3 linked regions of the Homo sapiens genome follow. The protein of the gene in region 1 interacts with the protein of each later gene in a pairwise test. Each region holds a gene or a part of one and is shown on either strand. Other genes may lie near its edges. The genes, in order: HSCB, GFM2 and NQO2.

Evidence for each region.
Region 2: the proteins of HSCB (region 1) and GFM2 interact in a two-hybrid assay, tested with the Homo sapiens proteins (one large-scale study listed by IntAct).
Region 3: the proteins of HSCB (region 1) and NQO2 interact in binary tests that used the Homo sapiens proteins (3 or more experiments, as listed by UniProt).

Annotation. Positions count from the first base shown.
Region 1 is NC_000022.11:28,755,025-28,758,010, reverse strand, and holds the end of HSCB (iron-sulfur cluster co-chaperone protein HscB isoform 1 precursor), read right to left. Parts: intron 934-2,986; coding exon 842-933; 3' UTR 501-841; downstream 1-500.
Region 2 is NC_000005.10:74,757,099-74,760,834, reverse strand, and holds part of GFM2 (ribosome-releasing factor 2, mitochondrial), read left to right. Parts: intron 1-1,408; coding exon 1,409-1,466; intron 1,467-1,888; coding exon 1,889-1,986; intron 1,987-3,736.
Region 3 is NC_000006.12:3,006,374-3,010,109, forward strand, and holds part of NQO2 (ribosyldihydronicotinamide dehydrogenase [quinone]), read left to right. Parts: intron 1-94; 5' UTR 95-179; coding exon 180-186; intron 187-3,651; coding exon 3,652-3,736. UniProt on the Homo sapiens protein: The enzyme apparently serves as a quinone reductase in connection with conjugation reactions of hydroquinones involved in detoxification pathways as well as in biosynthetic processes such as the vitamin K-dependent gamma-carboxylation of glutamate residues in prothrombin synthesis.

The sequences.
Region 1 (2,986 bases):
ATTCTCACAAGGAGCATGCAACTTAGAACCCTCACATGTGCAGTTCACAATAGGGTTCATGTTCCTTTGAGAATCTAAGGCCATAGCGGATCTGACAGGAAACGGAGCTCAGGCGGTAATGCTTGCTTGCTCGCTCACTTGCCACTCACCTCCTGCTGTGGGGTCCAGTTCCTAACAGGTTGGGGACCCTTGATATAGTCCACAAAGTTGAAAATATTCACTACCAGGCCCTTTGCAGAGAAGTTTTTGGATTCCTCTTTGTAGGGCCTCAAATTGGCCCCATCTCCACCTCTTCAACCATTAGCCTACACTGGGGTCATGTTGTATCAAGTATCAGATGAAGAACTGACCACCCAAGCTCTGACTAGGCTGTGTTTCTTCCCACATGACAAACTTTGCCATCCACTAATGCTTGAGCCATAGGCTTAATTAAGATGATATAAACGGTAAAGGCTTATCTATTCCCAATTACCAGAAGCCAGAAAAGAAATATACAAGAATTTTATTTTTCATTTATTTATTTTTCAAGATTAAGTCTCACTCTGTTGCCCAAGCTGGAGTGCAGTTGCGTGATCTCTGCTCACTGCAACCTCCACCTCACGGGTTTAAGCGATTCTCCTGCCTCGGCCTACCAAGTAGCTGGGATTACAGGCACGCGCCACCATGCCCGGCTAATTTTTGTATTTTCAGCAGAGACGGGGTTTCACTATGTTGGCCAAGCTGGTCTTGAACTCCTGACCTTGTCATCCACCCACCTCAGCCTCCCAAAGTGCTGGGATTACAGGTGTGAGCCACTGTGCCCAGCAAGAACTTTATTTTTTAAACTTTAAACTATCCACAATTAAAGGGGAATCTTCTTTAACTTGATCTTTTCTTCTATATTTGAAAAGTATCTCATCTTTGTCAAAATTTCCTTGGCTTCTTCAAAGTCATCTGAAATAGACAGAGACACTGAAGTCAGGCTTCATTTCAAGCAAGAATAAAACCAACTCTGATGACTAGGGCAGCGATATATAAGTGGAGCCCTGGGGTCCGGAGGGCTCATCAATTCCTCAGTAAGACTGAGCAACGAAGAGGGAGAACATCTGGATTGTTAAGGAGACACAGGGATAAACCAAATGGGGCGAGAGTTGTGTAAGAGCATGTGTACAGGATTCACATAAATTAGAGAAGTTGATTCTCTTCAGGACAGTCCCAAGTAATAAATGGGTGGTGGAAGCTAGATGCAGGAGCTCATACCTGCTATCCCAGCATTTTGGGAGGCTGAGGCGGGAGGATGGCTTGAGCCCAGGAATTGAAGACCAGCCTGGGCAACAAAGCAAGACCCTGTCTTTACCAAAAATAAAAAATAAAAAATAAAAAATAAAATAAAAAATTAGCCAGGCATGGTGGCACATGCCTGTAGTCCTGGCCACTCGGGAGGCTGAGGTGGGAGGATCCCTTGAGCCCAGGAGTTTGAGGTTGCACTGAGCTATGACTGTGCCACTGTACTTCAACCTGGGCGACAGGGTGAGACCCTGTCTCTTTAAAAAAAAAAAAAAAAGGGTGGGTGGTTGTGTTTTAAAAATTTCTCCCTAACATGTGGTGGTATACTGAGGATATGAAAGCACTGAATGCTTCCTCTATGCCAGGTGCTGAGGCATAGAGCTGCCTTCAGGGGGCTTACAGTTCAGGTGCTGAGGCACAGAGGTACCCTCCGGGGGCTTATAGTTCCCAAGAAAGACACCTTTAGACCGGTGATTTTCCTTTTTTTTTTTTTTTGTGAGATGGAGCCTCACTCTGTTGCCCAGGCTGGAGTACAGTGGCGTGATCTCAGCTCACTGCAACCTCCACCTCCCGGGTTCAACCAATACTCATGCCTCAGTCTCCAGAGTAGCTGGTACTACAGGGTGTGCGCCACCATGCCTGGCCAATTTTTGCATTTTTAGTAGAGGCAGGGTTTCACCATGTTGGCCATGGCTGCTCTCAAACTCCTGATCTCAAGTGATCCGCCTGCCTTGGACTCCCAAAGTGCTGGGATTATAGGTGTGAGCCACCATGCCTGGCCAGACCAGTGATTTTCAACTGGGGATGATTTTGCCCCCATGGGGACATCTGGCAATGTCTGGAGATATTTTTGGTTGTCACAGCTGGGAGGTAGTACTGACATCTGGTGGGTACAGGCCAGGGATGCTGCTAATCATCTTATAGTACTCAGGACAGCTCCCCCAAACGAAGAATTATCTGGCTTACAATATCCGTAGTGCCAAGGTTGAGAAAACCTGACTTAGATAAGTAAAACACAATGTGAAGAGTGCTAAAATGAAGATATGTTATAACCATTTGCATCATTCCAGATGACTCCAAAAATAAAATATTAAGCAAAAAAGTCACAGAAGGATATGTATTATTTATATAAAGAAAAATATGTGAGACTAAATAATATACTATTATGTACATATATGGTTAAAACTATCAAGAAAAGCAAGGGAATGAGTAACACAAAATTCAGGAGTGGTTACTGTGGAAGGGAGATGTAATGGCAAAATGTCAACCAGGGACTTGGAAGGCCTTGGTCGTATTTCATTTCTCAATTTAATTTATTTAACATTTTATTTTTTTGAGATGGAGTCTTGCTCTGTCACCCAGGCCGGAGTGCAGTGGCGCAATCTTGGCTCACTGCAAACTCTGCCTCCCCGGTTCACGCCATTCTCCTGCCTCAGCCTCCTGAGTAGCTGGGACTACAGGTGCCCGCCACCTTGCCCGGCTAATTTTTTGTATTTTTAGTAGAGACGGGGTTTCACCGTGTTAGCCAGGATGGTCTCCATCTCCTGACCTCGTGATCCGCCCGCCTCGGCCTCCCAAAGTGCTGGGATTACAGGCGTGAGCCACCGCGCCCGGCCTATTTAACATCTTTTTTGTATTCAAAAAATTTTAGGGCCAGGCGCGGTGGCTCACGCCTGTAATCCCAGCACTTTGGGAGGCCGAGGTGGGCGGATCATGAGGT
Region 2 (3,736 bases), on another chromosome or scaffold:
GCAAGAATCTCCCTTATTAGGGCTCTGTAACCATTTTTTACTTCTTGGCTATTTCCTTGAGATTATTAGGGGCGGGAGTGTTCAGATAGGTGCCAGAAGGAAATACTAGTAGAGTTGTGCTCCTTATCTGAGGAACACGCTGATGAACTGAGCAAAGGAAAGGTTGGTGGCTTTAGTAGCTAGTTTGCAAGTTTAACATGTGAGTGTAATTGTAGAGTGCTCTTGTGAATTTCTTTTTCTAGTTTATTTCTGTTTTTTATGCAAGTGTTTTCTGTCAAGAGAGATTTACTAGAATAATTTATTTTGAGGATTGTTATAAGTAGTTTGGCTAAGTATTTGGGATTGTTTAGGTTAGATACATGGCATCAGAAGCTGGAAGGTGGAGGAGTTGACTTACTTTTGAATGTCCTTTCTGTGTTTGAAACAAGCAAGTGTATGGTAGACTCTATGAAACTAGTTTAATTCTGTTGCTGTTCTCATTACTGTGTTTGTCATGTGAGAATAATAGAATAAAAATACTGATTGGCTGTTGACTTACAAGGGCAGATTAATTTAATGGGCTACGTTATTGGTGTGTATCTAGGTCTCTGAATTTGGCTAATATGAATTTAACTGTAGTAGTATAGATTATCTTTTGATCTTCAAACCACCATGAAGTTTCAAAAATAATATAAAATTCTCCTTTTTGTATTATAGAAACATGGGAGAAATGGTTTAAATAACAGGAAGGCTTTAATTAAATTTACAAATGTAACTGCCTTGTTTCTTTAGAAATTACTTCTTAATATTAGTAAACTATATATTAAGCATAGAATAAGCCATATGGACTTTTTTATTTAAGAAATACTGCTTGGCCTTTCAAAAGTATTAAATTGTTATAGCTTCTATTCAGTGAAACCTCCCAGGCAGTCTTTAAAGGTATTGTGTCCTGGGATTGCTGAGGAAGGCAAGTTCCAAATTGTATAATAATTCATTATCAGCTGACATGAGGATCACTCTTAGCTCTTCAAACCCTGGAAAAGGCAGGTTTATAGGACTGTGCATTTAAAATTTTTTCTTTGATTCAGGATCATTGCCTTAAGATTATTATTATGAGCATTTATTCTAGTTCTACAATTTTGTAAATGGAAGTGAAGTAGGTGGCAGAGATTGGGGTGAATCTGTATTTTTCTGAGGATATGATCTAGAACTTGATGTTTAAAACTTTTACCTTGTTTTATTGTCATCCATAGCTTTCCTTATACATTGCAAGGAAATAAATTTTAGTTTATTTTAGATTTATTTAGCTTGAATTTTACTTTATTTGGACTTACAGTATTTGCTTAAAGTTATTTTAAAGTCTTTCATTTATAAATTAAAGGAAAATTTCATAAATGTAACAGTTCAATTTTAACTTTCTTTTCATTAGGCTTAATAGGAAATGATATCAAATCCCTTCATTCCATCATCAATCCTCCCATAGCTAAGTAAGTACTATCATTATATCATGCTTTTCCATAGACTGTCACGAAAATTTACAGGTTTTTTCTGATGGACAAGAGTGAATGCTGTAATTTCTATGACTTTCTGCCCTAGCCAATTTTAAGTAGATGTTGATAATGTATCTTAGCTATTTTTTCTCAATTAATGCTAAAAATTTTTAATGTAACAACAGCACACTTTTCTAGAATGAATATAAGATAGTCTCAAAATTGTAGGTTGTAGTTAGCCCTTTTGTTACTTAGCTATCTTATCAGAGTAATGTGGATATACTCTAAATGTTTTCCATTTTTCTAGTTTTTACACAGTTTTATAAATTATAGAAATACCAGCTTTGAAATTTGGATAGCATATATACTTTGGTTTTACAATTTTAGTAAAGTTTACCTTATTTTTTCCTTTTAAACAGAATCCGTAATATTGGAATTATGGCTCATATTGATGCAGGCAAAACTACCACCACAGAAAGAATATTGTACTATTCCGGATATACAAGATCACTGGGAGGTTAGAATGGATTCCTCCTCTTCCCACCCCCCCATTAGCAAAAGCATCATTGGAAAATATTTTGGTTAACAAGTCAACTTACACACCTTGAATATGGCATAGAGCTACTGATGTCTAATCCACAATTTAAAGATAAGATAGTTGCAATACCCACCAAAGGGTCTTCTTAGATTCAACTAAATATTCAGACTTGTAAGACTATCATAGGCCCCACTGGACACTCGTCTACTCAGAATGCTACAGGACAGGAACCACAGCTTACCAACAGACCAGCATTAGGTGTTTCTTTCTAGTAGAGTCCTTATAGCAGTCCCCGTAGCTATCTGGGAGCTATCTTCTTTGGCTGCTCCAGAGTAATGGATTAGATGCAAGGTGACAAGATTCATAGGAGCCACCCTAGCTTAGAAGATTCATGCCCCATAGGAATGAATGTCTCTTGTTATAACTTCATAGGCATAGCTTCCAGGTGTCACCTAAGGTACATGCCATACACAGGGAAGCCCAGAGTTCGGTATCTCCATAAGGTACTTATATATATAATTCATTTATAGTTCTTCGCAATTCAGATTTAGTTTACCAATCAGAAGTTGTTTTTTCCATAAGTTATATTGCCTAGGAATGTAGTTGACATACCTCTGTTATCTGGTTTCTAGAAGAAAAGAACCAAAAAAAGTAACCAGAAGTTAAATTCTCACATCAAAGAGGATTTTGTTAATCCTTAACCAAGTTATCTTTTGTCTTTTAAATTGTAGTTAAAAAAACATAAAATTTACCATCTTAACTATTTCTAAGTGTTAACTATTTTGGTAGTGTTAAGTATATTCACATTATTGTGCAACCAATCTTCAAAACATTTTCATCTTTCAAAATTGAAATTCTATACCCATTAAACAACTCCCATTTTCCCCTTTCCCCGGTCCCTTGCAACCATCCTTCTACTTTTTCTTCATGACTTTGACTACTCTAGGTACCTCATATAAATGGAATCGTAAGTATTTGTCTTTCTATGACTGGTTTATTTCACATAGTACAGTGTCCTCAAGGTTCATCCATGTTGTAGCATGTGTCAAGATTCCTTTTTAATTTTTTAATTTTTTTTTTTTTTTTTTTTTTTTTTAGAGACATAGGCTCTTGCTCTGTTGCCCAGGCTGGAGTGCAGTGGCCCAGTCACAGCTCACTGCAGCCTTGAACTCTTGGGCACAAGAGATCCTCCTGCCTCAGCTTCCTGAGTAGCTGGGACTACAGGCAGGTGCCACCACACTTGGCTAACTTTTGTATTTTTGGTAGAGACAGGGCCTCAGTGTGTTGCTCAGGCTGGTCTCAAACTGGGCTCAAGTGAAGATTCCTTTTATAAGGCTGAATAATATTCCATGTGTTTTTATTTATTTATTTCAAACTAATGCAGTTTATTATAACAAGAAGGAAATCAAGCTTTACAGTAATTATAGTCACTAAGCTGAAAAATCACCTACAAAAGTCATGGCAATAACTTATTTACAGTTAAAAAAGAGAATATCAAGATCTTGCTCTCATAGTAAGGTAAACTAGACATGTACACAATCTTATGATGCCAAGAAACTGAATATATAAAAATAGAACCCACATAGAATGTTCTCTCTCTCTTTTATATACACACACATTTGCTCTGTGATTGCCCTTAATTTTATGTCTTTATCATAACTGGTTTATTATATTTATAATTAAAGATAATCTTAGACTTTATATTCTAAAAAGCAACTAGGTTAACAGT
Region 3 (3,736 bases), on another chromosome or scaffold:
TGTCTGTCAGGAAGCAGCAGTGATGCCTAGATGTGGTACATTCGACCTCACCTATGCCTCTCCCCACCCCCTCTGGGTTCGTTTTGTCTTCCAGATTGCTGGACTCGCTGAAGAGAGACTACGCAGGAAAGCCCCAGCCACCCATCAAATCAGAGAGAAGGAATCCACCTTCTTACGCTATGGCAGGTAATGATTCACTATTGTGGAGTAAGACTTTTTTTTTTTTGAGATGGGATTTTGTTGTATTGCCCAGGCTGGTCTCAAACTCCTGAGCTCAAGTGACCCTCCCACATTGACCTTCCAGGTGGGAGTTAGACTCTTAATCAGAAATTGGATACATTGTTGTAAAAAATCCAAGCCACGTGGAAGTGTATAAACTATCTGGAATTATCTTGTTTTCTATGTTCTCACTTGTTTCATTGTTCCTTTCGACTCCCTCCAGAATTTAGGTTCCTCAAAAGTGGGGCCCTGCCTATCCTGTCTTTGCTGTGCCTCCAGGCCCTGAAATTCTCCCTGGGCTGTAGCAGGGGCTCAAGTGAATGAACCCCAGGAGGCATCTTGGGTAAAAATTCAGTACGATTCTATCTTTGCTTTTGCAACTGCTTATCATGCACATATACATGAACATGCAATCTCTCAACTTTTTAATTTCACCTAACGATATAACATGGAGAGCCTTTCGTGTTAGAACGCACAGGTTCACCTTACTCTATACATTATGGTGTAGATTCGGATTTTCGCCCTTGGCACCACTGACATTCTGGGCCAGATAATCCTATGTTTTGGGGGGTCATCCTGTGCACCCTGTTTAGCACCTAGCACCATCCCTGGCCTCTGCCCACCAGATGCCAGTAGCACCCCTCCCCCACCGGCTGTGACAAACCAAAATGTCTCCAGGCATTGAGAAACGTCCCCTAGCAGGCACAACACTGCCCCAGTTGAGAACCATTGGTGTAGGTATTTCATTTGCATCTATTCTCCTGTTAAGCCCCTAAGTATAGTTCCTTTATTGAAACAAGAGTCTGAGAAAGTAAAATTAAAATGTTAACCATGAATCTAACTTATGGAATTCAACCTTTGTAGCCAGCTCAATGCCCTGAAACCCATTGCTTCAAACTGATACGTGTATCTTTTCCTTAAAGTGTCATTATGAAAAATTTAAATCAAGAGTTTAACATCTTCTTAAAGGTGACCAGGGTAAATTTAATTAAGCAAATCACCAGGCTGCCTCCCAGACGAAGTCAGTATATAAGCCTGGAGACTCTTTCCAATGAGGAAAATACTGCTTCAGAAGCCCCTGGTGTGAACGATACTGCCAGTGCCAGGAGGGCCTGACTCTTCCTAGAGTCCTCTTTGTTATCAGCATCACCACTGAAAGATGGGCTCCATGTGGCCCTGCCTTCCCATGAGACCAGCGGGTCTGATTCCTCATGTTTTGTTTAAGTGTCAGATTTGATGGACTGGGGGAGATGGAAGCAGAACTGTGCCACACTGAAAGGTGCCTGTAGCTGATATCTGCAAATGTAGGGTTAGCATGGAAGACTAATTCCAGCAGTTCTTTATTTTGGTGTTAGGGAGCTGGTCTAAACCTTCTTACAGAGGATAACCAAATTAGGTTGGGCTTTTAAAAGATTTAGTGGTGGTATTTTTGAGGAGATATAATTTGACCCATTGTATTGTGATGTTGAGCTATGAATAACTGGATTTTTAAAATGCCCATTGCTTTAAAACTGCCACCTATTAGAAAGTTTGGTATTTCTGGGGCCAGGTGCTGTGGCTCATACCAGTAATCCCAGCACTCTGGGAGGCCAAGGTGGGCAGATCACCTGAGGTCGGGAGTTCGAGACCAGCTTGACCAACATGGAGAAACCCGGTCTTAACTAAAAATACAAAAAATTATCCGGGCGTGGTGGCGCATGCCTGTAATCCCAGCTACTCAGGAGGCTGAGGTAGGAGAATTGCTTGAACCCGGGAGGCAGAGGTTGCAGTGAGCTGGGATCGTTGCTCCAGCCTGGGCAACAAGAGCGAAACTCTGTTTCAAAAAAAAAAAAAAAGAAAAAGAAAAAAGGAAAGAAAAGAAAGTTTGGTGTTTCTGGCCAAGTGCGGTGGCTCATGCCTGTAATCCCAGCACTTTGGGAGGCCAAGGCGGGTGGATCACTTGAGGCCAGGAGTTCAAGACCAGCCTGGCCAACATGGCAAAATCCCATCTGTACTAAAAATACAAAAAATTAGCTGGGCGTAGTGGCACACATCTATCGGGGGAAATTCAGCCAGATATTGGGCGAAATTCACCCCCAATATTTCACGTAGGTTCTTTTCTATATTTCCTAAGTGTCGGCCGGTCTGAGAAATAAACGGACAGAGTACAAAAGAGAGAAATTTTAAAGCTGGGTGTCCAGGGGAGACATCACATGTCGGCAGGTTCCGTGATGCCCCCAAGCCGTAAAACCAGCAAGTTTTTATTAGTGATTTTCCAAAGGGGAGGGAGTGTACAAATAGAGTGTGGGTCACAGAGATCACATGCTTCACAAGGTAATAGAATATCACAAAGCAAATGGAGGCAGGGCGAGATCACAGGACCACGGGACGGGGCGAAATTAAAATTGCTAATGAAGTTTTGGGCACCATTGTCATTGAGAACATCTTATCAGGAGCCAGGGTTTGAGAGCAGACAACCGATCTGACCAAAATTTATTAGGCAGGAATTTCCTTGTCTTAATAAGCCTGGGAGCGCTACGGGAGACTGGGGCTTATTTCATCCCTACAGCTGGACCATAAAAGACAGCTGCCGCCCCGAAGCGGCCATTTCAGAGGCCCACCCTCAGGGACGCATTCTCTTTCTCAGGGATGTTCCTTGCTGAGAAAAAGAATTCAGCGATATTTCTCCCATTTGCTTTTGAAAGAAGAGAAATATGTCTCTGTTCCGCCTGGCTCACCGGCAGTGAGAGTTTAAGGTTATCTCTCTTGTTCCCTGAACATTGCTGTTATCCTGTTCTTTTTTCAAGGTGCCCAGATTTCATATTGTTCAAACACACATGCTCTGCAAACAATTTGTGCAGTTAACACAATCATCACAGGGTCCTGAGGCAATATACATCCTCCTCAGCTTATGAAGATGATGGGATTAAGAGATTAAAGTAAAGACAAGCATAGGAAATCACATGGGTATTGATTGGGGAAGTGATAACTGTCCATGAAATCTTCACAATTTACGTTCAGAGATTGCAGTAAAGACAGGCATAAGAAATTACAAAAGTATTAATTTGGGGAACTAATAAATGTCCACGAAATCTTCACAATTTATATTCTTCTGCCATGGCCTCAGCCAGTTGCTCCATTCGGGGTCCCTGACTTCCCACGAAACACACCTGTAGTCCCAGCTAGTCAGGAGACTGAGGCATGAGAATCACTTGAACCTGGGAGGCAGAGGTTGCAGTGAGCTGAGATCATGCCACTGCATTCCAGCCTGGGTGACAGAGTGAGACTGTCTAAAAAGAAGAGAGAGAAAGAGACAGAAAGAAAAGAAAATTTGATATTTCTTAGCTTCAATTACTATGATGCACCTGAACATTCAATTTTCATCTTAGTCTTCATTGAATTTAACAGAGAGAGGTTGTTCTTCAAGAGGAACTGTTTCTTATCCTGATTTAGGTAAGAAAGTACTCATTGTCTATGCACACCAGGAACCCAAGTCTTTCAACGGATCCTTGAAGAATGTGGCTGTAGATGAACTGAG